7 linked regions of the Homo sapiens genome follow. The protein of the gene in region 5 purifies or fractionates together with the protein of the main gene of each other region. This does not show direct contact. Each region holds a gene or a part of one and is shown on either strand. Other genes may lie near its edges. The genes, in order: PRP4K, TRPV3, SLC25A12, OTUD6B, AKAP5, TNPO1 and DERL1.

Region 1 (3,092 bases), on a different chromosome or scaffold from region 5:
GAAGACTATCCAGAGCCAGTGCCATTTGACCATTTCTCAGCCCAGAATCAAGCATACTAGCTTCTACCTGCCACTCTGCGGTGGTTAGCTCCAATGGGGTGGGTGGGTGCATTCTACAAGGCCATTCTGCCTGCCTTATCTGCTTTGCATGCACTAAGATTCACAAACTACACTGTGAATCTATTTTACTCACTGTTTTGAAAAGCCAAAAACAGTTCCTTAAAAGAAGAAAATAAAGAGTGGGTATACTGAGGATAAGAGCCCAAGATTTGTCAAGCTATCATGTGAGCAATGAACCAATTTATTTTTATCATTATAAAAACAGGAGTTGGCTCATTACTTATCTGTTTCCTTTACTAGGAAAACCAAAGCAGAAATGTATGTAACAGGAACACGAATATAATACACTCTTTGGTGTTGTGCACCTAATGCTTTGAAAATGTTTTGATGTTTGTGAGGAAAATCTGAACTCAACCAAAGAAAAAAACCAGGAGACAATATGATAATAAGAGGCATATTTTATTCAGTTTCCCAGTAAGTCAATTAGAAACATGCACTGCTAAAATGCAAGTTACAATTCAAATGGTACCATAAATAATTAGAGTACACACTGAGCATTTTCAGAAATCAGCTTCCATATCTTGATCACTAAATGGAAAGGTTCTTCAGAACAGTCCCTTACCCTATATACAGAAGGAGAAGAAAAATTAAGGATGCCATAATGACATCTATCAGAATAACTGGAAAACATTTTAATTTAGCATACATTATTGACATGTAAAAAACACAAATGAATTTGTCGTGAACATTTCTATAAGGAAGACATTCCATTAGGAGGAGAATGATAAAATTCATGTTGAATATATGCTGGAACTAGGATACTATTAAGAAAGAAACACATTTATGAAGCCCAATTGGTAAAGATGTCATTATAACTAAATGAGGAAAATTACATATTTGAATATATGGCTTTCTTTCCTATCTTCAACATTCAAAAGGGCCATTTCTTAACTACTTCGCCTAAATTTTATCATGTTGATTCCTTTGTTTCATCTCAGAGATTTTATTTCTACCCCATATAGCTAGAGTTCTGCTTACAAATGATAAAATACAGGTAAAGCATAAGAGGAATGCAAATATGGAACAAAACTGAGAACATTACATTTTACTTACTCTACCACATACCATAAAACAGTACATAAATATTTCATTTTGAAAAAAAAGTCCTGAGTACTTATTTTTGTTAGGAATAAAGTGGTACTTAATAATGGCAAAACATTTCTATTATTTTAAAACAAAATTTTGAGACAGTAGAGTGAAATGAGATAGCTATCAGGGAATGAAGAAAACAGGATGTATTAATAACGATTTAAGGGTGAATATAAGATGCTCCCCCTGCTCAAAACCTCGAAATTCCAACCTCATTTCTGATGATCTTCAAGAATAAAGTCTATCCAGAGTGTAAAAAATGTCTATGCTTTCCAGATCTCAACTATTCTCCCAACCCTAGAAAAAACTGTAACATCTTTGAGAGCCGTACCTAACACTTCTATGAGCCCTCAAGTCTGACAATCACTTGATATCACTTTTGCCATAAAGTATAATAAAAGCAAAAAATTCACGGCAGATAGCATTTGAAAAGCATACAGCTACTCTAAAAGAGGAATGCACATTTATTCAGGAGCATTCACTAAATAAATTCAATCTAGTAGGTCTTGCAGAGTTCCAAATTGCACCTCAGCAAAATTACAGAGTGTAGGAAAATCATGTAACGTACATAAGACAGTTGATAGGGTTCCTTTCAAATAGGTAGTCTAGATATGCTAAATTGGGGAGTATAAAAAACCCAGAGTATCTTTTTCATTTCCCTTAAAAAAAATGGCTCTGAATATTTTGTCTACTTTAAGACTGGAACACTGGTTAATAACGAGGTTTCTACAGGGTAAGTTGGGGAACAGATACTAAAGGAGTTGAACAGTATTCTTAATATTCCAGTTTGTATTCTTTTGCATCTGCCTAAAGCTGAAGACTACTTTCAGATATATGCTATTCTGGTGGTTGCTGTTTTTCTAAGAATCCTTAACATCCAATTTTGACAACCATGTGTTATGTGGAATCTCAGCATCCAGCAGCCTTTTATATTACTAAAGTTGACCACTATTTTTATTTTAGGGGAGGAGAAACTGGGGGAGGGGAGAGGCAGGAAGTATGATAAAACAAGCACTTTACAGACGCACTCCACAACAGCACTAATTCTAAATACCAAACACCAATAAAACCCAAATCATAATGCTGAAAACTAAAAAATTAGACAAAAAATAAATGAAGGATTGTTTTTTAATAAATCTTTTATAGGACAGAAACCTTAGCTCATGTCTTCTGGTTGTCATCATCTTCCACTGAGCTGCACCTAAAACACAAAGAACAAGTAACAAGCAACTTTGTTTTTTAAAGAACAGGTAACAGTTTTGAAGGTATAAGATGAACTGTTTCTAGTGGAACTTACTTAAAAAATTACATAAAATGAAGCCATAAACATCACCAGAAGCATCAAATTGTCAACTACTTTGGGTGAAAATAACTACAAGAGACTTGAATATGCAGCATATTATCACCGAAATAAATAATGGTGGGAAAATCACTACCCATTTCATTAAGGTAGAATAGCTGCACCTGTGACGCCTTAATTAAAAGGCTTCACTCTACCTGAAGATGAAAATCACCTTGTATTTATTTTAGTAAGTCTAAACCGTGAAGAGACGGGGTGTAGGTTCAGAGGTGGCTTATTATATCATCTATCACCTTCCTGGCTGTAGTTCATTTCATGTCTTTAAATGGAGCAAAACCCACCAGAAGAATCAATGCTGCTATTCTGATTTTCCATTCTTGAATGCACCAAAATGTGCATGCTTGTTGTAATTAGGTGCCTGGGTGAATAAAAAAATCCCATTTACAATTTAAAAATATTATTTAAACCCCTAAAATCTGATTATTTTCCATATTCCTCAGGGAGACAAGCATTAATTTTACCCCCCAAACAGCAAAGATTACATATATTTCTGAAAAATTCTCTTCTACCATGTTAATAATAC
Region 2 (3,500 bases), on a different chromosome or scaffold from region 5:
TAAAAAATACAAAGTAGACCGAGTGCAGTGACTCACATCTGTAATCCCAGCACTTTGGGAGGCCAAGGCAGGTGGATCACGAGGTCAGGAGTTCAAGACCATCCTGGCCAACATGGGGAAACCCCATCACTACTAAAAATACAAAAATTAGCCGGGCGTGGTGGCGGGCGCCTGTAGTCCCAGCTACTCAGGAGGCTGAGGCAGGAGAATAGCTTGAACCCGGGAGGCAGAGGTTGCAGTGAGGCGAGATCGCACCACTGCACTCCAGCCTGGCGACAGAGTAGGACTCCATCTCAAAAAAAAAAAAAAAAGTAAAGCAGAGGACAAGGAACCAAGAGTTCTGTCTGGGACAAGAGGAGGGTGGATTTTAATTTTAAATAGAGTGGTTAGGGTGGCTCACTGAAAGGTGACATTTGAGCAAGGACTTGAAGGAGGTGAGGGAGAAAGTGACTGGGCTATCTACAGGCAGAGGGGACAGCCGAGCGAAGGCCCCCAGGCGGCGTGTTGGAGGAGGTGGAAAAAGGCCGTTGTAGCAGGAGGGAGTGAGTGATGGAGAGAGGAGGTCAGAGTATGCAGGGCTTTGTGGGCTGTCATTGGAACCTGTGCTTTCATTCTGGGGGAGGCACTAACAGGTTGGTCTGGCTGCTGTGCTGAGCAGAGTATTAAAGGGCCAGGGTGGAGGCAGGGAGGCCAGTTAGGAGGCTACCGCAGTGATCTAGCTTCACTCTTCCCCGTAGAAGCGGAAGATGGGGAGAGGGCTAGGGAACCTGAGGTGCCCATCCTGCTGAGATAGGATATGGGCCCCAGTCCTGGGGCTTGGGGGACGCTGCTTCCGGCCCATGAGAGAACCAAGCTTCAGTGCGCTCATCCCCCAGGTGAGACGCCCCTGGCCCTGGCAGCATGCACCAACCAGCCCGAGATTGTGCAGCTGCTGATGGAGCACGAGCAGACGGACATCACCTCGCGGGACTCACGAGGCAACAACATCCTTCACGCCCTGGTGACCGTGGCCGAGGACTTCAAGACGCAGAATGACTTTGTGAAGCGCATGTACGACATGATCCTACTGCGGAGTGGCAACTGGGAGCTGGAGACCACTCGCAACAACGATGGCCTCACGCCGCTGCAGCTGGCCGCCAAGATGGGCAAGGCGGAGGTGGGGCCATGGGGCGTGGGGAGGCAGGAGGTCGGGAGGTCAGGAGGTACAGCTGCCACCCTCTCAGCCCCGGGGGCCTTACTGGGGATTCACAAACCACAGCCTCAGCCTTGAGAAGGTCCCAGCCTTGGGTCCAGAACTGCAGTGGCGTGGCGGCCGGAGGCAGGTTTGTTCTGAGGGGCCACGCGGAGCTGGTGCGATGCAGCCCACTCTCTAGACTTCAGTCCCTAATACGCCGCGTTTCCATCTCTTGTCCTGGGAGGGCTAGGCTGGGGGAGCCTGAGGCTGAGGTGACACAATAGCCCCAGCAGTGGGTGGCCCTTGGGGCCTTCTGCCTCTCACGAGGACGGGAGTTCCAGAATGGCTGCTGCGGGCGCAGCGCTAATATGCTGCCATTTCCCAATTATGGGGAGACCCCAGCCTGTTTGTGCGGTTGGAACTCTGTGCCAGGTCCCCAGCCAAGAGTGTGGCCGCTTTGGGCCCTTCTTGCCTTGTGTGATGTGGCTGAGAAATCGAGGCTTGGCTGGGAGCCTTGGTGAAGACTTGAGCAGGGCTGGGCTCAGATCTCTTTCAGGGGCCGGTGTCATGGCTTGGTCTGAGATGTTCTTCTCAGGGGACTGATTCTGGGGTCCAAGCGTGTTCCTCAGCCTCACTGTCTCTACGCTCTGCGAGGAGGCTGTGGCTCCTGGGACGCCATCAGAGGACACTGGGGGGTGGTGACTGTTGAGTAATCGCAGCTGTGCCAGCCTCAGGGTACCCGCCTCCCTGGTCAGCTGCCCCGAGGGCCTTGGTCCTGTCCCAAGTGGTCAGGGCTGGGACCCACAAGGGGCCTTTTGATTCTCCCGTGGGGGAGGAGGAGATGGAGAACGGCTTCAACAGAGGAGGAATTGTGTGTCTGCCTCCCCGCAGCTCCTGCCTACCCTCAGGGTCACAGCTTGCTGGGGCTTTGAAGAGTCAGCTTGTGGTTGCAGAAGGAGCCTTCTCCAAGGCCGTCTTCCCTGTGTGCCACTGTGGCGGGTGCTGTCCCTGCCACCCCAGCCCAGGGAGGAGGCTTCCTGCATGGAGCATGGTCCCAGGACCCCCTTGTTTTCTAGGGGACAGTGTGCCCGCTGTGGCCGGCCCGGGGGAGGCACCTGTCTCCCGCTTCCCTCCTCTGTTCCGTGTCCTCCAGAAAACTTTTCTGGATGCTGCCCAGCTTGGCCACCGTCCTGGGGCTTTTATAGGCTGGGGTGCGGGGCGGAGAGACCTGGCCTTATCCCTAGAAGCTCTCTGCCTGGGCTCTCATGACAGATGGGATGGGAACCCAGTGGGTCTTGTGAGGCCAGGTCTCTGACACTGTCCTTCCCAACAGTCCCTTCCTCTTGGGTCTTGAGTTGGTGTCCTAGGAAGTCCATGTCTCATCCTGGGGTAACCCAGGGCTCAGCTTTTTGGAAGTAGGAAGCCAGAGACAGCAGCTCTGTGTCCAGCCTGCACTTTGGAGCCAACCAGGAAGCTTCACAAATACAGACTCCTGGGTCCCACCCTGGATATTTCGATTTCATCAGTTGATGCTGTGGGAATTTTTGGTTTTTTTGTTTGTTTGTTTTGTTTTGTTTTTTTTGAGACTAGAGTCTCACTTCATTGCCCAGGCTGGAGTGCAGTGGCGCAATCATGGCTCACGGCAACCTCCACCTCCCAGGTTCAAGCGACTCTCCTGCCTCAGCCTCCTGAGTAGCTGGGGTTACAGGCGCCTGCCACCACACCCAGCTAATTTTTGTATTTTTAGTAGAGACAGGATTCCACCATGTTGGCCAGGCTGGTCTCGAACTCCTGACCTCAAATGATCCACCCGCCTCGGCCTCCCAAAGTGCTGGGATTACAGGCGTGAGCTACTGCACCTGGCCATGCTGTGGGAATTTCTAAGTTTCCCAGCAGCCCTAACATGCAGCAGAGTTTGAGGATCACTGGCCTACCGAAGTCCCACGGGCCTCCCTGTAGGGCGTGGTGTCTCTCGTCACCACCTGCCTGGCCAGAGTGGTGAGCCACAGCTGGAGGAGTCTTGGCTTAGGGTGGGCTGGGGACGCTGAGAACACTTCTGGCTTCTTCTCAAGTCCAGAGCAAATGGAAACTGTTTCTAAAAAATCATCAGTGCCTGGATTTTTCACCGAACCGGGTCCCCAGCTGGCGTGAGGCATTTCAAGCTGATTGTGCAGCTTGCTGCAGCCTGCGAAGAACCTTCACACCCTTTGTCCCTGGTATTCACAACCCCCAGTGAGATGGGCGGAACAGCAAGCTTTGTGCGCATTCCACAGATAAAGACGGGGCCCAGGGGCCATGGCGCCAGGCGCAGAGGCAGGTCTCCACC
Region 3 (3,500 bases), on a different chromosome or scaffold from region 5:
TTTTTGTATTTTTAGTAAAGACAGGGTTTCACCATGTTGGCCAGCACAGCTGGTCAGAGCCACACTGAGCTCTGTAATGGTTCATTACTGGTTGTATAGAGAGCAAACATGCACCCCTTCCTTCCTTTGTCTTTTCGGAGTGTTGGTGCAGCCAAGGACACCTGGTTCTCTCCTCCTTTTCCAAATCAGCTCCTTCCTAACTCAAGAGTCAGGCTGAGGCCGAGCTTGGTGGCTCATTCCTGTAATCCCAGCACTTTGGGAGGCCAAGGCGGGCAGATCACGAGGTCAGGAGATCGAGACCATCCTGGCTAACACGGTGAAACCCCGTCTCTACTAAAAATACAAAAAATTAGCCGGGCGTGGTGGCGGGCTTCTGTAGTCCCAGCTACTGGGGAGGCTGAGGCAGGAGAATGGCATGAACCTGGGAGGCGGAGCTTGCAGTGAGCCGAGATTGTGCCACTGCACTCCAGCCTGGGCGACAGAGTGAGACTGTCTCAAAAAAAAAAGAGAGTCAGGCTGTAAATGTGAGGTCTCAAACTCCTGACCTCAGGTGATCCTCCCATCTTGGCCTTCCAAAGTGCTGGGATTACAAGCGTGAACCACCACACTTGGCCCAGTCTCCTACTTTTAAATGGGGGCAGCATTTGCCTTCCAGGCTTTTCCTTGTGCTTTCCAATCAACAATGAAAAACAGCCAGAGAAGAAGAGTCTAATTGTGGACAGGTGTTTGCAAGTGGTTGAACCAAGTAAATATTTCCATGGAACTGTCAGCACCGACTTCTTCCCCATAGACATTTGATGTCAGTTTTCAGAATGAGATTATTTTTTCTAATTTTTACCAGTCAAGCTTTGCTAGCAGGAACTGAGAACATTCAGAAGTCTGCCTCCAAAGGCAGGAAGTTTACCTAGTTTCATCTGAATAGGGTGCAAGGCCATGCCAAGGGGAAGTATTTGCATTATTCCCTAGCAGAACCTCGTACAAGGCTGCCAACTCCATCCGCCTAGTGAGGATACAGTGATATTCAGGCCAAATTGAATTTCTTCCCCCGGGGAAGATTATTTTGCTCCTTTGCTCTCTGTTTTGTTTTATAAGTAAAAGGTGTGGTTGTGAAATCCATCTTTTGTGTCCTGCTGCTGATCAATCTCAACATGACCCCAGGGAGCTCGGGCACAGGGGCCTTTCCCTGACCAGCTCCCCTGTTGTTTCTTAACTGGCTGCCTGGCCACCTCTTGCTCCAGTTGTAATGACTTTTGTCATGTAAGCATGTCTGAAAGGAGTCACAGTCAACTCTCAAGGTAGCCCTTCAAACAAGCGAGTGATTATAAGTATTGATATTCACTTCCCACACTACGACAAGAATCAGCAAAAACAGTAGTTTGGTGTCAGATACATTTAGTGACTCACTAAGATGACATTATCATTTTTTTATACATAAAAATACTTGTATCTTATTTAAGAAAAAAAGGAGGTAAAATAATTGAAACTGAAAGGGAACGCTTGGGAATTGTCTTATTAATATTGCTACTTTTTTTTTCTCTCTCACAGTTATTTGGGATCATGCAATGTAGAGTGATTTTTTTTTTAATTCAGGAAAAAATAATAATAATTTTCCCCTGATCACACTGCAACAGCTAATAGGCTTCTATGCCCTTTTCCCATTAATGGCCAGACATCTATGTAAAGAGTTTTGAGTTCCGCTCAAGTGGTTGAAGTTGCAGGCTCTATAGTAGATGTTAGCAGTATTCCTATCTTTTATAAGGTACTCTAGATAAATTAAATGTGGTTTTCTCCTGAAAGGTGTCCCAGCTGCATCTCTGGTGACCCCTGCTGATGTCATCAAGACAAGACTGCAGGTGGCTGCCCGCGCTGGCCAGACGACATACAGTGGTGTCATCGACTGTTTCAGGAAGATTCTCCGGGAAGAAGGGCCCTCAGCATTTTGGAAAGGGACTGCAGGTAGGCAGGGGCTGGAGCCATACAGAATGGCTGGCTGGCTCTAGCGTCCTCCCCTGTGACTCAGTGGCTATCTTTACCACATTTGTCCTGGTTTCAAGTCTCCCCTGCCCCTGCTTCTCTTTTTCAGCTCGAGTGTTTCGATCCTCTCCCCAGTTTGGTGTTACCTTGGTCACTTATGAACTTCTCCAGCGGTGGTTTTACATTGATTTTGGAGGCCTGTAAGTCAGCTGCTCAACTCCTTTACAAAGAAATCACTAAGTCCAAAACAAATGTTTGTTCTGTCTACAAAAGCATTGTTGCAACTCTTAGAAAACTGATAAGACAGAACCTTTAAGACCAATGCATTTAAAACAGTGAGCTTAAGAAGCATTTGTGTTAAGCAAGTAAAACTTGACAGAGTGACATCGTACATAATATTAAGCAGCTATTTGGGGGATTTTAGGGAAGCAGCAAATTTTTTTAAAAAAGACAGGATATCCTCTGTTGCCCAGGCTGGAGTGCAGTGGCATGTTCTTGGCTCACCGTAGCCTCAACCTCCCGGGCTCAAGCGATCCTCCCACCTCAGCCTCCTGAGTAGCTGGGACCACAGAGGCATGCCACCACACCCAGCTAATTTTTGTACTTTTTTATAGAGATGGGATCTCACTGTGTTGCCCAGGCTGGTCTCGAACTCCACCAGCCTTGGCCTCCCAAAGTGCTGGGATTACAGACATGAGCTACCGTGCCTAGCCAGGAGGCAGCAGATTAAAATGCTGTGTAAATAATTGTCTTTTTTCACATAAGCAAATACTGAACTTCATGGCGTTCTCATTATGTGGATTTTATTATATGGCCCTTTCACAGAAGTAATGTAAATGTATACCAGTAACACTTTTGTGCATTTTCTTTCAAAGTCCCAAGCCCTTTTGCATCTCTGATATTTCATTATTCACCACAATTTATTATTAGTTAGGTGCAGATGTTCTTGAAGCTAATTTACTGGAAAAACCAATAGGTTTGAAGAGAGATTTTGCCCATGGATATAATCACTAGTGAGCTGTAGGCCAGAAATTGGGCTTCTAAAAGCTTACCACTTGAAGCTTGCACTGAGAAGAAGAATTACAAGTTGAATTTTCTGGGTGGGGAAGTTGTACCCAAAGCAAGCAATTATTAGCTTTTCAGCAGAAGACCAAGTACCATTCCTGAGTCCTCACATCAGAAACCTGTGAACTCCTCTGTGCCCAAAGGCCATATAGGGAATCAGCTGCTGAACCAAGTGGAGGGACCTATGCAAAAAAAGTGAGAACAGCAGTCTTACAGTTGCATTGTAGAAATGTGAGGCTTCAGGCTTTTCCATGCTTCTTTCATCTTCTGTAAAAGAACTAAAGCTATTTCTCTCTCTCTCTTTTTTTTTTTTTTTTTTTTTTAGACGGAGTCTTGCTCTGTCGCCCAGGCTGGAGTGCAGTGGTACGATCTCGGCTCACTGCAACCTCCACCTCCCAGGTTCAAGTGATTCTCCTGCCTCAGCCTCCTGAGAAGCTGGGACTAAGGGCGCCCACCACCGC
Region 4 (3,500 bases), on a different chromosome or scaffold from region 5:
CTGTGTACCTAGAACTGTGGATCACAGAGGCATAATATCTTAAAACACAAGATGGCACTATTACTTTATAAAAGACTAAAAAAGTTTCAGAGGGGAAAGGAAGAATAAGCACCTTAGATATCATCTAATCCAAAACCCCTCATTTTCCTCTTCTGAGGAAACAGCACGCAGAAAGATTTCCAAAGGCCATACAGCTGGTAAGAGCAGAGCAGGGACCAAGGACAACACAGAGAGCTCCTTCTATCCAGGCACCTGAATCAGAATAAAAGTTGGAGCAGATGGGAGCTGGAGTTAATGATGTCATGTACTATTTACTGAAAGAGTGGCACTTTATCTTATCTGCAAAACTGTTTAAGCCTCTAAAATACTAATTCTAATCATTTCATTTTTTTCCCTTCATGCTTTGCTTCATTAGAACAAAGCAATTGAGTTTCCTTTTCAGGGCACTAGGTAAGAAATCCACTGAATTCTTTTTCCAGCAATATATAGTTTCCCAAGAGCACTAGGCACTTTGGTTTCTACAGCTATAGTAGTGGAGATAGAATGGCACTAATAAGTTCTAATAAAAACGTATAAAAGATGAAAATAGCATGTAAATCATAAATATATTGTCAATAAAACTACAGTCATGTTGATATAGTAATATAACAAAGAAGATTCAAAGGGAATATTAAGAGCTGGACACCAGTCCTGGGTTTGTATCAAACTTTTAGTGTACAATTGAGATAACTTGGGTCTCTGCTTTCTCATTGGAAAATACAGAAATTGAATTCAATCTCATTCCAGCCCTCAAATTCCATATTTTTGAAACCCAGCTCTTCTAAGTTCTATTTTAGACTCTTTCTCTCATATCAAAAAGTTTGTAAGTTCTTTGAATAAAATACTGTTTTTCTAGACTAAAAATAAGAGATATGCTCTACAATATTCCACGATATTCTTAAAATAAATCTTGACAAAGTTTTATCACGTTTTTCTTCCAGAGTTGTATCCTTCCCAAAGATAAACATCATTAATTAAATGACTTTGCATTCCTTGGTGCTTCTAGCAAAAAGGAGGTTCCAAATAATCTAACACCCGATTGTGCATCCTGACTTCAGGTTCCATTTTCTTAAGCATTATAAACGTTTAATGTTTTCTGTTCTAAAATCCCATTAATATAACCCTGTAAAAACATTACTTGGGCATTTTTTCTACCAAGTGTTAAAGCAGCTGACTATAAAAGATACTAAATGGTTTGAGAGTATAACTGACAAAAGTATTAATTCCAGTTGTGCAGTATCTTAGGGAAAAAGTAACAAAATTTTTGAGAAAGGTAAGGGAGTTTTCGTTTTGTTTGTTTTGTTGTTAGAGGTCCAGCTGGGGAGGAACAAGTTTTGATAAAGATAGGAAGAACTTGTGCCCTTAGGTTTTCCAGAATTAAATAGGCTATTATAAGATGTTTCAATTACTAAGTAGACGTAATTCCAATGTTTTGTTATGCTACTGGCATGCAAAAATTCTGCCCTTCCTTTTTGATCTATAGAAGCTAGACAATTGTGAGATCATCACAAAAGAATGCATATCCTAAGCAGACAATCTCCAAGATTCCATGAGATCTAAATTTTATGAATCTACAAAATTCACAATTATATTTACTCAAAAATAAAATTCTACACAAGAATGAGAAATGTTGGACTATGTGCATTTCATCAGCTTGCAAACAAAAAAAGACATTGCTTTTAGGTTTAATTTTTTAAGAGGCATAGTATGCACTACTTAACACAGAAAAAGACATTGCTTTTAGGTTACATTTTTAAGAGGCATACTATACACTACTTAATATAGAAACAATACTATCATTTGTTGACCCATTAGTTCTCCAGGCCTTGTGTTAAAGGCTTTGGAAATAGTACAGTATTTAATATTCACAATGAATTAGCTTATGAAGTAGCTATAATTTGCCCCCGTTTTATAGATGTGAAACTGAGGCTTAAAGAAGAACCGTACCCAAAGTATAACAGTAAATGAAATTAAAACCTCATCTGTTTGACACTAAACTCCATGCTCTACTAAATTACATACTATGTCATAAGATGCAAAATGAATTTAAAAATATGCATTTAAACCATAGAAAACATCAAGTGTTAATAAAATAATACTCGCAACTAAAAAGACTGAATTTAATCATTTTTCTTTTTCAAATTCAAAGGGACTTACCTATCTAATCTCATTTCCATAATGCTGATATGAACTAGCTACTTCCAATAAATCAGTTTCCTTATAGCTCTTCAATAATGCAATATATCACCCCCACATTTGTTTTTGTGCATGCTGCTCCTCCTATTTGGAATATCCTATCTAAATAATATTTCTTTCAAATTCCAACCCATTATTAGCATAATGAACTTTCCCTTCTCTAAATTTTCATAATTAACCATTATATAGATACCTACATAATTCTCTAAGAATTTTGTATACCTACACATGTTAACTTCTAGGTTCAAATCCTTATTTCTCACCCAATGGTATAGTTCTTGGCTAGGGTTGTGCATCAGAATCCCCTGGGCCCACATTCTGAATTTTTAAGTCTGGGATAATATATTTGTAAAAAAAACTACTTTGCACTCCCACTCCCAGCTTCGCTCTCCTATGAGAGCTGCAACCTGAATACGTTATTTTATATTATCTTAGGATCATTTTCTTCTCCATAAAATGGGGATAAGAAATCCTACTTCACAGGATTATTGTCAGGACTAAATGAGATGTCATATAAGCAGCTTAGCATAGTATGTGACACACAGCAGGTGCTTAATAAATGTTAGTTCAAGTGCCTAGACAAGGAACTGCATCATTTTTTTTTCATTCTCTTCCTATAACAAGACCTAAGATAGTACCTAAGATAGTATTGAACACACAGCACTAACTTATATACTTGGTGACATGACTTTCATACCCGTCTCTTTTGTGCTTTTGATATCCGAGGTGGCTGATTCTCAAGCACCAAGTTTGAAATGTTAACAGCAACAGAATCTATCTGAAGGAAACAAAAAGCATTAACAAGTCAATGTACTTATTAAATTACTGAAAATCATAAATATATCTAATCCCACATTTCAAATTTGAGTAACAGCAATAGACACTGTATTAGATAATATGGTTTTGTCTCCTGTTTCTATTTTTATGGAAGAATTTGACAAGTTCCCAAGAAGTTTCTTTCAAAGATCATGCTCATCCCTGCATGCTTTCCTTCCTTCTTAGAATGCCTACTCCATTAATCTAAATGCAGTACTGTACTTCCTGTAAGCGCCAACTCATTTAGCACTCCACTCTTCTTTTCTCTGACTACTGCCAGTACATATAAGATAAAGGTCCTGTGCTGGCTCAGTTCATTATTACCTGCATAACCTCTACTGGCAGCAGAGGCCTTTTTCCATCTTAATTAGCCAGAACCTGATGAGTACTAATCCTTGACCCTAGTAGCAAGTTGAGCTTTTCCTACCCTACCCTTTTCCATCTACAAA
Region 5 (3,253 bases):
AGTCCTTCCTAGAGCCTGATTGTTATCATCGGGCTGTGGTTACGAAAAGATAGAGTGTTAACATTACCAAAATGAAATCAGTGTCTTAGTAAACACAGAACTTTTTAAACACCCACCTTTAGTATGTACCGTCTGAATAATTCTAGCATTTTCACATTGATTAGTCTTTTGAAAAATCATAAAGATGAACAATTCATAGGTTAATGCAGAAAATAATGAGTATATCAAGAGATGAAAACAGTGTGCTTTTGTCAAATTCACAAATGTCATCAAATTCAGAACTGCCCTTTTGGCTGAATTAGTTCAGCATTGTAGGTGTTTATATTTGTCTTGCTGAAGGACTGTTTTAGGAGTGTTGTTGTAAAATCTCTGTCCAATTCCCAATTAGCAGAGTAGAACTTTTGGTAGTGCGAACTCAGTAGTTCCATCAATGTGATCTTTACAGTTATAGGAAATGAACATAGTTTGCCCACAGTTCTTTTAAAAGATCTGAATAAACATGAGTCAATATAACATTTATTCTGTATTAATAATCAGTACATAAATTAATTCAACTTGAAACCTTTTTTCTACAGAGTACTATTTAATATTATCATCTGATCCATAGTAATTTAGTACTAATTTTAATGAGAAAAAATGAAACTTTTACTTTCATAATAGCTCATCCACTTAACATTTTTACAAAGAACTACTATAAATATGTAACACTATGCAGGCTTTTTTCTACACCTAGTCACAAATCAAAATAAGCATACTGTTTATTTAAAAACGGAACACTTTCAAACTGCTGCTGTATTCAGATCACCACCTTCCCCACACCAAATTAATTGCTCTCTCTGTGTACTCCCCTCTGTGCCACTCATGTTGCAGCATTATCCATGGCTCTTTGCCTTAACCCAACCCGGTTTCTGTTGTCACTGCTCCCTAGGTTGAGTTCTTGGATGGCAGGGAGCCTGTCTCCCTTATCAAATAGTGTTAGGTATGAGTTATGCCTAATACGTGTGTTGAATCAAATTGAATTTAATTAGGACACCTGAATTTTATGTAGCTTCCTTCTAATTTTTGTAACTAAGGAGCATTACAAATTTTCTTTTCAAAATGTACCATAAAATATACCATGGATTGAAATTTTGAATTATGTATAAGAGAGTTCATGTTACCCAATAAAACATCATAGGAATTTGAACCTAAAGAACTCTAAATCTTAAATGAGGATTTTTTTTTAAATGCACAAATGGCAGGCAGAAAAATCAAATCCTGCTATATTATCAGATGAAATTAGAAAGTAGACTACATATTTCAATAAAGTTGACATTAAAAGGATCTTTTCAAACAGTGGGATTCTAAAGCCTAACAATTATTTTTTAAATTCTGTTGTAAACCTCGAAAAACATTCTTAACTATAAAAAATAAGGTAACTTGAAGTTAGAAATTTATGGATGAAGTTAGAAATGTATGGATGAAGTTAATGCTGGATTGCATACAGAAGCCAAATTTGGTGCCTCCATGATCCATATCTTTAATGCCTTTAGCAAGCCTGTTCACATATACTGGTGAAATAACAATCTCTCAGAAGTAAATAAAAGAGATTCTAAGACTCCGCTGAGTAGTAGACCAAGTAAGATCATCACAAACTTCATGCTGTCAAATACATTACCTTGAAGGAAAATTATGCAGACAGCTTTTCTGAACAACTCCATTTATGCCACATGCTTATTATTCTTTGAGGTGGAGGAGGTGGCAGGGAACATAATTTCTGTTTGAAAGTTCTTTTGTTTTCTGCTACCTTTACTTAAATGTTACCGGGTACTATTTTTATATCCTATAAAGTGCTTTGAAAAAATGTTAAGTGAATAGTGCTACATAAAATAGAGGAGAATTTTCACATTCTCTGGGTTGTAAGAAGCAAAGTGAATAATACTTGAGTCTTAAAAGAGGAATGATAATATGCTGAAAAAGTTAACAAGTAGCTAATAATCCCCCTCCCCAACCCCCAGCTTTGCAAAATTCTGGGTTCAAAGAGAAACTGAATTTTGGCTAATAAATAAATAAACATTCATTAAAAGCAGAATTTATACCACAGCAAATGTAAAGAAAATTCATGTGGTGTTCCTAATAATTATTTTAATGTTGTTAAATGGACATGAATTGAAACAGAACTTATTTATATTCACTTAACGTTTGCATATAAGGTCAAATTGCTTAAATACTATTACAAGAAAAATATTTTATGACTCTGAAGCCATCTGATTTCTGCATATTTCTATAACAATAAAACAATTTGAATCACCTTAGAATTCACTGTAATAGGATTTGGCCATGTAGCACATATAATCAGATTGAGACCAGTTAATTTCGGAATTCCTTTTTCTAACTGAAATCCTACTTAATTCAACAGATATTCTCAATAGAAAAACAGAAACCTCTTAAGAATGAATGCAAGTAAAATATACATCTTATCATAAAAACAATCAGTACATTCTAACCAAAAATATATATCAAACCACAGTGAAAAAAGTAAAAACCTAGTATTAGATAAAATTTTACTTTCTTAACCAAAAAATTCATTGCACATATTTACCATTTATCTGTTTTTTTAAAAATCCCCCAAAATATTTCCAATAACTGCTAAGTACTATACTTTTTGCTTGTTCATGAGATTACTAAACATTTACAATGCAAGTGTATTGGCTTGGAGGCATCCTTGCAGTAAATGAGGGCAGGATTCTTCAATACACTGTAAAATGCACCAACCTTAGTCAGGTTTTTAAAATGGTTCACTTTTAAATATGATAGCTGGTAGCTGTCCAAGTCCATTAGCACCACATATAGTGAGTTAAAGAGTGTTTTCAGAGAAGATGACTCGTCTTTTTTGTTTTTAATGTTTAAAAGTTGTACAATTAAAAGAAATTGACTTCTTGGGTCATGTGTTTTGAATGACACTTTTCATCTTGCTCAGGATTTCCACCCTCCTCCCCGGATTATAAGCATGAAGGTAGGAAAATCTGGGGGAAATATTTTTGCACTTCAGCAAAGAATCTTGCTAATAATATCCATGATTTGGTTCAATTTCCAAGTCAGATTAGTTTCTTTTGTTAGAGGTCTCAATATGTATTTACAGAAAGAAATGAAGATGATTCTGTAGGACAAAGTAGCAAATACTTTCTATATGCAATCCATACACAATGCAAGAATTCACCCAGATCATTTAAAATCATCTAATGTGCATTATTTCCTCCAAGTGGAGCTCTTG
Region 6 (4,228 bases), on a different chromosome or scaffold from region 5:
ATGGTTCTATTCTCTAAAAGTGTTGAATGATACAGCCATTGCACTGAAGTTTGAGCTGTGTGCGTGTGAATTTATACTGTTTCAAAAATTTCAAATGCATGGTAGCATGTAGAAAGGTTTTTGTTACTATGTGTGTGTGTGTGTTTTGTTTTGTTTTGTTCTGTTTTTTAACGTTCTTTCACCTTTCCTCTACTTTGGCTTTGCAAATTTCAGTCTGTAGAGCCTGAAATTAAATTATTTTATAGTGCCTGATATTTTTAATATTATAAGTTGGATTCAAAGGGTATACAGCATTTTGTTTTCTAGTACCATTGCTTCACTGGGAGCTCAAAATTTGCCTCCCTGTTAGTCTTTAATAACTGAGTAGAGTAGCTTTTTTATTCTTAGATTATAGTGATATTCTGTAGTGCTTCAAATACTTAGAATTCTAATATGAGAGATAGTTTAATATTCTGGAATAGAGAGTATTTTAAATTGAAATGACCAAATTCGATTTAAAACAAACACATAACAATCTTCAGTAAAGTTATTTGAACCTGTGGTTGACAATTCTGTATTGACTAAAGGCAATATTGTCACCTGTCTCATTAAAAATTAGTTTCCAGTTAGGCAGATGAATAACACTATTAAAAATGCACCCAGTTTTGTAGTCACTTGACTTTTTTTTTTTATTTAAATGAAATTTAATTTGAAAATAGAAAATAAAATTAGGTAAATATGACTGGCAACCTGAATTTGAGTTGGGATTCTTTGTGTATTTTTCCCCCTTGAGGTTATTGTTTCTTCCTAATTTATATTTCAGATACATAGTGTAGAACAGGAATTTGCAGAAGCCATTTAAGTTATCTTTTGAGGTAAGCTCTGATTTAGCATTTATTCTGATAAAATCTAATACATCATGGGATATATATAAAGCAACTTAATTCTTGTGGTGTAGTCTTAATAGTTTTGAATGTTGACTGAATGTCTATAAAATTGTGAGTTTGTCTTTGTTACATTCCAGTGTTTCTGCCTCTTGGCATGCTTAAAGCACGGCTTACTTCATCTGCTCCTTACACACTAAAATGCTGTTAGTGTGCTCAACTACAGAAATAGCCGCTGCTAAGTGATGTAGATTTTCTACTTGAATATTTTTATGTTGTAGGAACCTCAGGAGGTCAGTGTTTACTGTTTTATATATGCCTTCTTTTTCCTGTTTGAGCTTCTCTCTTTGAAGGATTCTAACAGAACAAAGCTGCTGATCAACCTAAGTTGGAAACAGAAAGTGTAATTAATATAACTTAAATGCATGTTTGGCAGTTCCATGTTACAGTCCATTAGCGAGTGAACTTAGTGCCACAGGTATTCATTTATTCAGGAAAGAATTTTGCTTTTTGTATTGTCTAATCTCTTCAATGACTTCATACTGTGTAAAAAAAAATCACTTTTTAATATTTTTTGGTTGGTTATTTCCCAAATAATCAACATGTAAATAATCTTTTAAGAGCCAGTTCTGATGCTTTACATTATTGCTACTTGATTTTGTTATGCAAGTTAGATTTCAGAAGAATAGATTTTAAAACACTTAACCAAGCCATTACATCTTAAAAACAAAACAAGTAGCATACATTTTGTAATTAACATTGATAAACACTGTGATTTTTTTGGTTAAGACTTTTTCATTGATCTGAATTGCTTAAATTGCATATATTGTAAAATAGGATCAGATGTATATTTTAAACTAATTTCAATGGATTTTCCTCTTGAAATGCTTTGTCTACTCAGTTATAAAATATTCAGATACAAGTTTTATCTCAGGTGAATACTCTTGTATTGTTTTTGCTTTGGTGACATGCTTATAAAGGGTCATCCTAGTTACATTCTTTGTTTTTTAAGTGTATTTCATTGAGAATCTTTCCATTTAGTCTGATTTTTTTCCTAATATTCTAGCAGGCTGGGGTGGTATAAAGCCCTCCTGACAAGCCTTTTGCCTACAGGTTTACCTGAAAATGAGCTACATATGGTCGTCATTTTCTTCAAACTCTCAAAATAGGAAAGTGGAAATTTTTCTCCCCTATATAAAATTATTCTGCCTAGCAGAAATGCCAGAAATAAATTAATTGCATCTTAGTCTAAATTTAAGTCCTTTGCCATGAGGAAAAAGTGGTTTTTTGCTTCATATGGTAAATCTATATTATTCATATTGAATGTATTAACAGATAATGGTGCAAAAGCATTCTTCCCAGGGGAAGAGTGTATCATGCATAACTGCAATTTAAGTCCTTCCTTTGATAATACTTCAAAACATACACAGCTTTGCTTACTGAATTATTTTTGCAAATAATACAAGGAGGGGAAACTAACTTGCTACTAGTGTTGTTAATGAAGTATAGGCCTTGGAACATTTAAGAAAACTGGTCTTCAGATAGTTAAGGGCTTGGGATAATTTAAGTGAAAAGTGAGATCAGTAATGAGCTGTGTTGTTAACAATATTATCTGGTAATAATACCATGCAATATAGCGTTGTATACCAACTTAGTGCATTTTATACTGTATTAAATATGGAGATACTTCTAATGCCTCTCTAAAATTAAATTTTACATAAAAGTTAGTTTTATTCACCTTTAGGCTTTCCAAGTGAATTGTGACTAATTTTTTCAATCTTACATAGATCTTTCACCCATTAGCATTACTTACGTAGATAATTCTTTATGCCTAGTTATTATACATATTAATTTTTAAGGTATACATTTAAATTACACAATTGTTCATTGTGGTTTGTATCCCAGAATGTGTTGTGTTTTTTAAAAGATGCATAATAGCTGAATGTATGCATGACTTTGAAAGAAGTTAAAATGGTGATTTTTTTTCACCTCTTGTACATTTTAAAACCAGGCCAAATCTATTTGCCAAGCAGTGTATCACTAATAAGAAAAGCAGTTTTTCCTTTTATTGCAGTTTTTGTTTATCTGCCATAGAATTTCCTTATACTGTGGCTTGGTATTATTCAAGATTAGCTATTTCGCTGGTATTACATCTTTTTAAAAGCCTATTATAACATGGTTAGCCTATAAGGCAGTGTTGGTCCCCTTCTAATATTGGCCTCATAAAGGGGTTCCACTGTACTTTCCGCATATTACTGTGTTGTTGTTTTCCTTTGTGGATATATAAGCAAATTGAGCTTGGGTGATTTTTATGGAGACAATAATTAGACAATACTGTATAATTAGTTTTACTTAATAGATTATCATCTTGTGAGAAGAGATGTTTAAACGTGGTAAATCACTTCATATTACAAAACAGTTTTACACTTAATATGTTAACATTGGGTGCAATAATTTAGTAGCATTAGCTTTAGTTACAAATATAACTGGATCTTTCTGCTGACAACTTAGGTTGTATGAGTTATGCTTAAAAGCTTTAAATCTGATGTTTCCTGTACCTGCCACACTATGTTAGAATGTGTCCTTCAAACATATCCTCCTGCAACTTCTCAAACTGTACTAAATTGATATTTCTTGAAGTCTAACTCTGTGCTAACAGATCTCCATTTTAAATAGAATACGGTTTTAATTTTTGATAAGCTGCTGAATTTTAAAGAGAGTTTTTTGGGGCCACCAAATATTTTGGATCATGCAGAGAATATATATTGTACTGTAGTAATTTTGTATTTACATTTGTATGATGTGACATAATAGATGTGAATGTTAATCACTGCTTGACTATGTTAATAAAGTTGTTTAACTATAGATGTTGCACTCTGATTTTTAATGAAAGGAAATGAGTTTTCTTTTTCCCTCTTACCCCATTTTGGATCTAGATAAGCCTTATGTTTTTTGGGATTTTTTTCCTTGTTTTTAGTTTGAGGTTTTGTTTTGTTTTTTCCTTAGCTTACACATTAGTACACTTTTGTTGTTGAACATCATTTATTTCTTAAAACAAGTGTTTTCTTATTTGTATAGTATAGTAAAAACCTGTTTTTCCACATTTTAACTTAACTCCTTGATGTGTTTTAAACAGTTGATTATAGGTTCTGCTGTTTGAGGATAGGGGACATACTATTCTGTAAAAGGAATTAAAGGCGAAATTGTGAATATAAAAAGTTGATGTAAGGAGAGATTGCATGAGTGTGTATGAATGTATGTCCTATTAAGGCTTCCTCTTTATCCTTCAAACAGTTAAGATTTGTAATTTGGGGAATTAACATTTATAAGAGTAATTTTTTCTTCAGGTTGTAAGGCATTAATAT
Region 7 (2,816 bases), on a different chromosome or scaffold from region 5:
CTCCCGCCTCCGCCATTCTGATCAGCAGCTCGCCTCATGCTAGCAGGGGGCACACCAAATCCTGATACTCCTCCTCTCCTACTGGGCAGCCAGCGGTACCTGGTGCAGAAAGACGGGGACACAAACGGAGAGAAGAGAACAAAGTCACTTCCACATAGTTATCTGACCTCCGAGAACACCTCCCTCTCCTGCTGTTCCCATGGCACTTGTCATGTTGAAGGCAGCGAGGGACGTCTTATTTAACTTTGTCTTTTCTGTACTCAGCCCCATGACCTGACCACAGACGGCATTCGTTTTTCATGTTTCTTAAATGTATTCAGATTTCAGCTAAATTCACACTCTGAACGTTTTTTTCTCTGCTTATAAAAGTAATCCATGCAGAACAGTATGGAAACAAAAATATTACACCCACAAGCCCAGCAACCAAAGAATGACTGATAGCATCTTGGTATATCTAAATATGGCTCAAACTGGATCAAAGGATACAAAATACATTCACTTTCAAAGGCCAAATCCACAGCCTGCATGTTTGAGCCTTGCACAGCATTTCTAAAAGGCTCTCAGCTGAGCCCATCAAAGGAGACAGGGGAAGAAGGCTTTCTATGTTGGAAGTATGGGTATGTTTTAAAATTTATTCAGAATCTGCCTTCCAGGTACATTCTTCCCTTCTCACAGATGGTGGGAGAGCTGGGGCCCCAGACGGTTAGATGATTTCCCACCTTAAAATTAATAAACTAAGAGTTCACAGAACAGCTAAGAGAACTTAAACCCAAGCCTACACTCTCAATAGTATTTTCCAACTATTTCCCATCTTTGACTCTTTTATTAGTAAACTGAGAATGTGTTTAAACCTATTCCACTTAGCAGATCCTAATGTTTAAAATTTTGCTTGAAGGCAGAGAGCATGATCTGATACCTCCGCTTAAACCCTTCTTGGCAGCAAGAGTAAGTCATGACAGGTGACTTGTCCACAGCAGAAACCCTGAAGAGGACAGGCTTTATACTTGACCTTATACTAGAGCAGTTACTATGTGAATTTACTCAGTGATTATTGCCTTACACTAGGTGCTGCCTGCTTATAAATTCATCTGATCTTCACAATAACCCCATGAGGTAGGCATTACTATTACTCCTGTTTTATAAACAAGAAAATTGAGCCAACACTGAGTGAAGCGCTTCGAAAGTGACAGGATTCCAACCTAGTCAGCCTGGTTCCAGAGCCTGCGCCCTGCACTACTTGTTATACTACATGCATCCTGCCTGGGAAGGGACAGCAGTCAGTGACTGGAGTCTGTTTACATCATACTCGATACCTTCATGCCTCTTCCCAAAACAGACAACAACTCGGGTTTTTGTTTTTTTGTTTTTTTTTGAGACGGAGTCTCACTCTGTCACCAGGCTGGAGTGCAGTAGCATGATCTCAGCTCACTGCAACCTCCACCTCCCGGGTTCAAGCAATTCTCCTGCCTCAGCCTCCCGAGTAGCTGGGACAACAGGCGCCCGCTACCATGTCCAGCTAATTTTTGTATTTTTAGTGGAGCCAGGGTTTCACCATGTTAGCCAGGATGGTCTCGATCTCCTGACCTCGTGATCCACCCGTCGGCCTCCCAAAATGCTGGGATTACCGACGTGAGCAACCACGCCTGGCCAAAAACCCCTTTTAAACACAAAATTTAGTGTGTACAGAGAAGATATAACTACTCTAAATGGAATGGAAAATGGTGATACAAATGTATCAGCATTCCATTTAGAAAAGCAGTTATACCTTCCTATACTCACCTCCTCCATTTTAAACAAATACAGCTTTACCATTAAATCAAAATGTATTTTCCAAGTGCTGGTTTCTCAACATCCATGCCTTCTGGTACAATAATATTCCTCCAAAGTACATAATAAAATAGAACACTTGCTGGAGAAAATGCTAGGGCTGTCTTGCTTTGCTACTCACTCTAAGACAATATGGAAGCCATCTCCACTGCTTAAGTAGATAGTGAAATTAAATGCAAATAATTAGTATAAAAAGATACCCAATTATACATAATCAACAAAAATTTATGGTAATTTCAAAGCAGTTACTGCTTTTGCAAGGAGCTGTATTTTGTCATCTGATCTTTATGCAAAATTTAGCAGAAGGACTTCCCCCAACAGAGAAAGTTCAAGTGGAAGGCAGGCTCCAGGGCTCGCTGATTTTGCCACTAGAATCTTGTATCCTGTGTTGCCCACAACTGAGAAGTAGCTACAAGCCGTTAAGTTAGAATATGGCCATTTAAAGTAAAGTAACTGTTGGCTGCCCCCCAAAAGCACCAAGCTTTTTTTAATTGATGCATCTGCCATCCTACTTGATAAACCTAGATCAGAAAGCCAAACCTGCTGTTATTATGTCCTTTGATAATTAGAAACCAGATTGGTCATTTGTTTTTTTAGCCTGAAGGCAATTCAAGGCTCAGAAGAGAAACAAGTTTCTTTTTATTCTCTTAAAGAAAAACACACACACCACAACCACCAATATGGTATATCTCTGTATATTACAGTTCACAATTTGAAAAGTCTTTGAAAAACATACCCCTACCCTATAAAAGGAAGGGGAGAAAGAGGAGGCCTGCTCAAGTTTTACTGCCCTCACTGATCCCTTAGAGGAATGACAGAACTGCAAAACATTAAAATTAGCAAGATGTGGAAGGGTTTGGTTTGTTTGTTTTTTTAAAGCTTTCAAATGCAAGCTATTACTGCATATCCCTGATATGAGATTAGGCATGATTGTCAGGCAGGCTGTGACACCCAGATGGTGATTTAACTGGCCCGTTCTTCGACAGCCT

The links.
Region 1: the proteins of AKAP5 (region 5) and PRP4K purify together in Homo sapiens (affinity purification with mass spectrometry; one large-scale study listed by BioGRID and IntAct). This does not show direct contact.
Region 2: the proteins of AKAP5 (region 5) and TRPV3 purify together in Homo sapiens (affinity purification with western blotting, with the first as the bait; one study listed by BioGRID). This does not show direct contact.
Region 3: the proteins of AKAP5 (region 5) and SLC25A12 purify together in Homo sapiens (affinity purification with mass spectrometry; one large-scale study listed by BioGRID and IntAct). This does not show direct contact.
Region 4: the proteins of AKAP5 (region 5) and OTUD6B purify together in Homo sapiens (affinity purification with mass spectrometry; one large-scale study listed by BioGRID and IntAct). This does not show direct contact.
Region 6: the proteins of AKAP5 (region 5) and TNPO1 purify together in Homo sapiens (affinity purification with mass spectrometry; one large-scale study listed by BioGRID and IntAct). This does not show direct contact.
Region 7: the proteins of AKAP5 (region 5) and DERL1 purify together in Homo sapiens (affinity purification with mass spectrometry, with the first as the bait; one large-scale study listed by BioGRID). This does not show direct contact.

The regions. Positions count from the first base shown.
Region 1 is NC_000006.12:4,062,392-4,065,483, reverse strand, and holds the end of PRP4K (serine/threonine-protein kinase PRP4 homolog), read right to left. Parts: 3' UTR 501-3,092; downstream 1-500. UniProt on the Homo sapiens protein: Serine/threonine kinase involved in spliceosomal assembly as well as mitosis and signaling regulation. Connects chromatin mediated regulation of transcription and pre-mRNA splicing.
Region 2 is NC_000017.11:3,530,313-3,533,812, reverse strand, and holds part of TRPV3 (transient receptor potential cation channel subfamily V member 3), read left to right. Parts: intron 1-875; coding exon 876-1,156; intron 1,157-3,500. UniProt on the Homo sapiens protein: Non-selective calcium permeant cation channel. It is activated by innocuous (warm) temperatures and shows an increased response at noxious temperatures greater than 39 degrees Celsius. Activation exhibits an outward rectification.
Region 3 is NC_000002.12:171,786,245-171,789,744, reverse strand, and holds part of SLC25A12 (electrogenic aspartate/glutamate antiporter SLC25A12, mitochondrial), read left to right. Parts: intron 1-1,797; coding exon 1,798-1,956; intron 1,957-2,083; coding exon 2,084-2,174; intron 2,175-3,500. UniProt on the Homo sapiens protein: Mitochondrial electrogenic aspartate/glutamate antiporter that favors efflux of aspartate and entry of glutamate and proton within the mitochondria as part of the malate-aspartate shuttle.
Region 4 is NC_000008.11:91,073,344-91,076,843, reverse strand, and holds part of OTUD6B (deubiquitinase OTUD6B), read right to left. Parts: intron 3,014-3,500; coding exon 2,933-3,013; intron 253-2,932; coding exon of another isoform or gene 113-252; exon of another isoform or gene 112-112; intron 1-111.
Region 5 is NC_000014.9:64,471,751-64,475,003, reverse strand, and holds the end of AKAP5 (A-kinase anchor protein 5), read right to left. Parts: 3' UTR 501-3,253; downstream 1-500. UniProt on the Homo sapiens protein: Multivalent scaffold protein that anchors the cAMP-dependent protein kinase/PKA to cytoskeletal and/or organelle-associated proteins, targeting the signal carried by cAMP to specific intracellular effectors.
Region 6 is NC_000005.10:72,910,661-72,914,888, forward strand, and holds the end of TNPO1 (transportin-1), read left to right. Parts: 3' UTR 1-3,728; downstream 3,729-4,228. UniProt on the Homo sapiens protein: Functions in nuclear protein import as nuclear transport receptor. Serves as receptor for nuclear localization signals (NLS) in cargo substrates.
Region 7 is NC_000008.11:123,015,487-123,018,302, forward strand, and holds part of DERL1 (derlin-1), read right to left. Parts: intron 100-2,816; coding exon 1-99. UniProt on the Homo sapiens protein: Functional component of endoplasmic reticulum-associated degradation (ERAD) for misfolded lumenal proteins. Forms homotetramers which encircle a large channel traversing the endoplasmic reticulum (ER) membrane.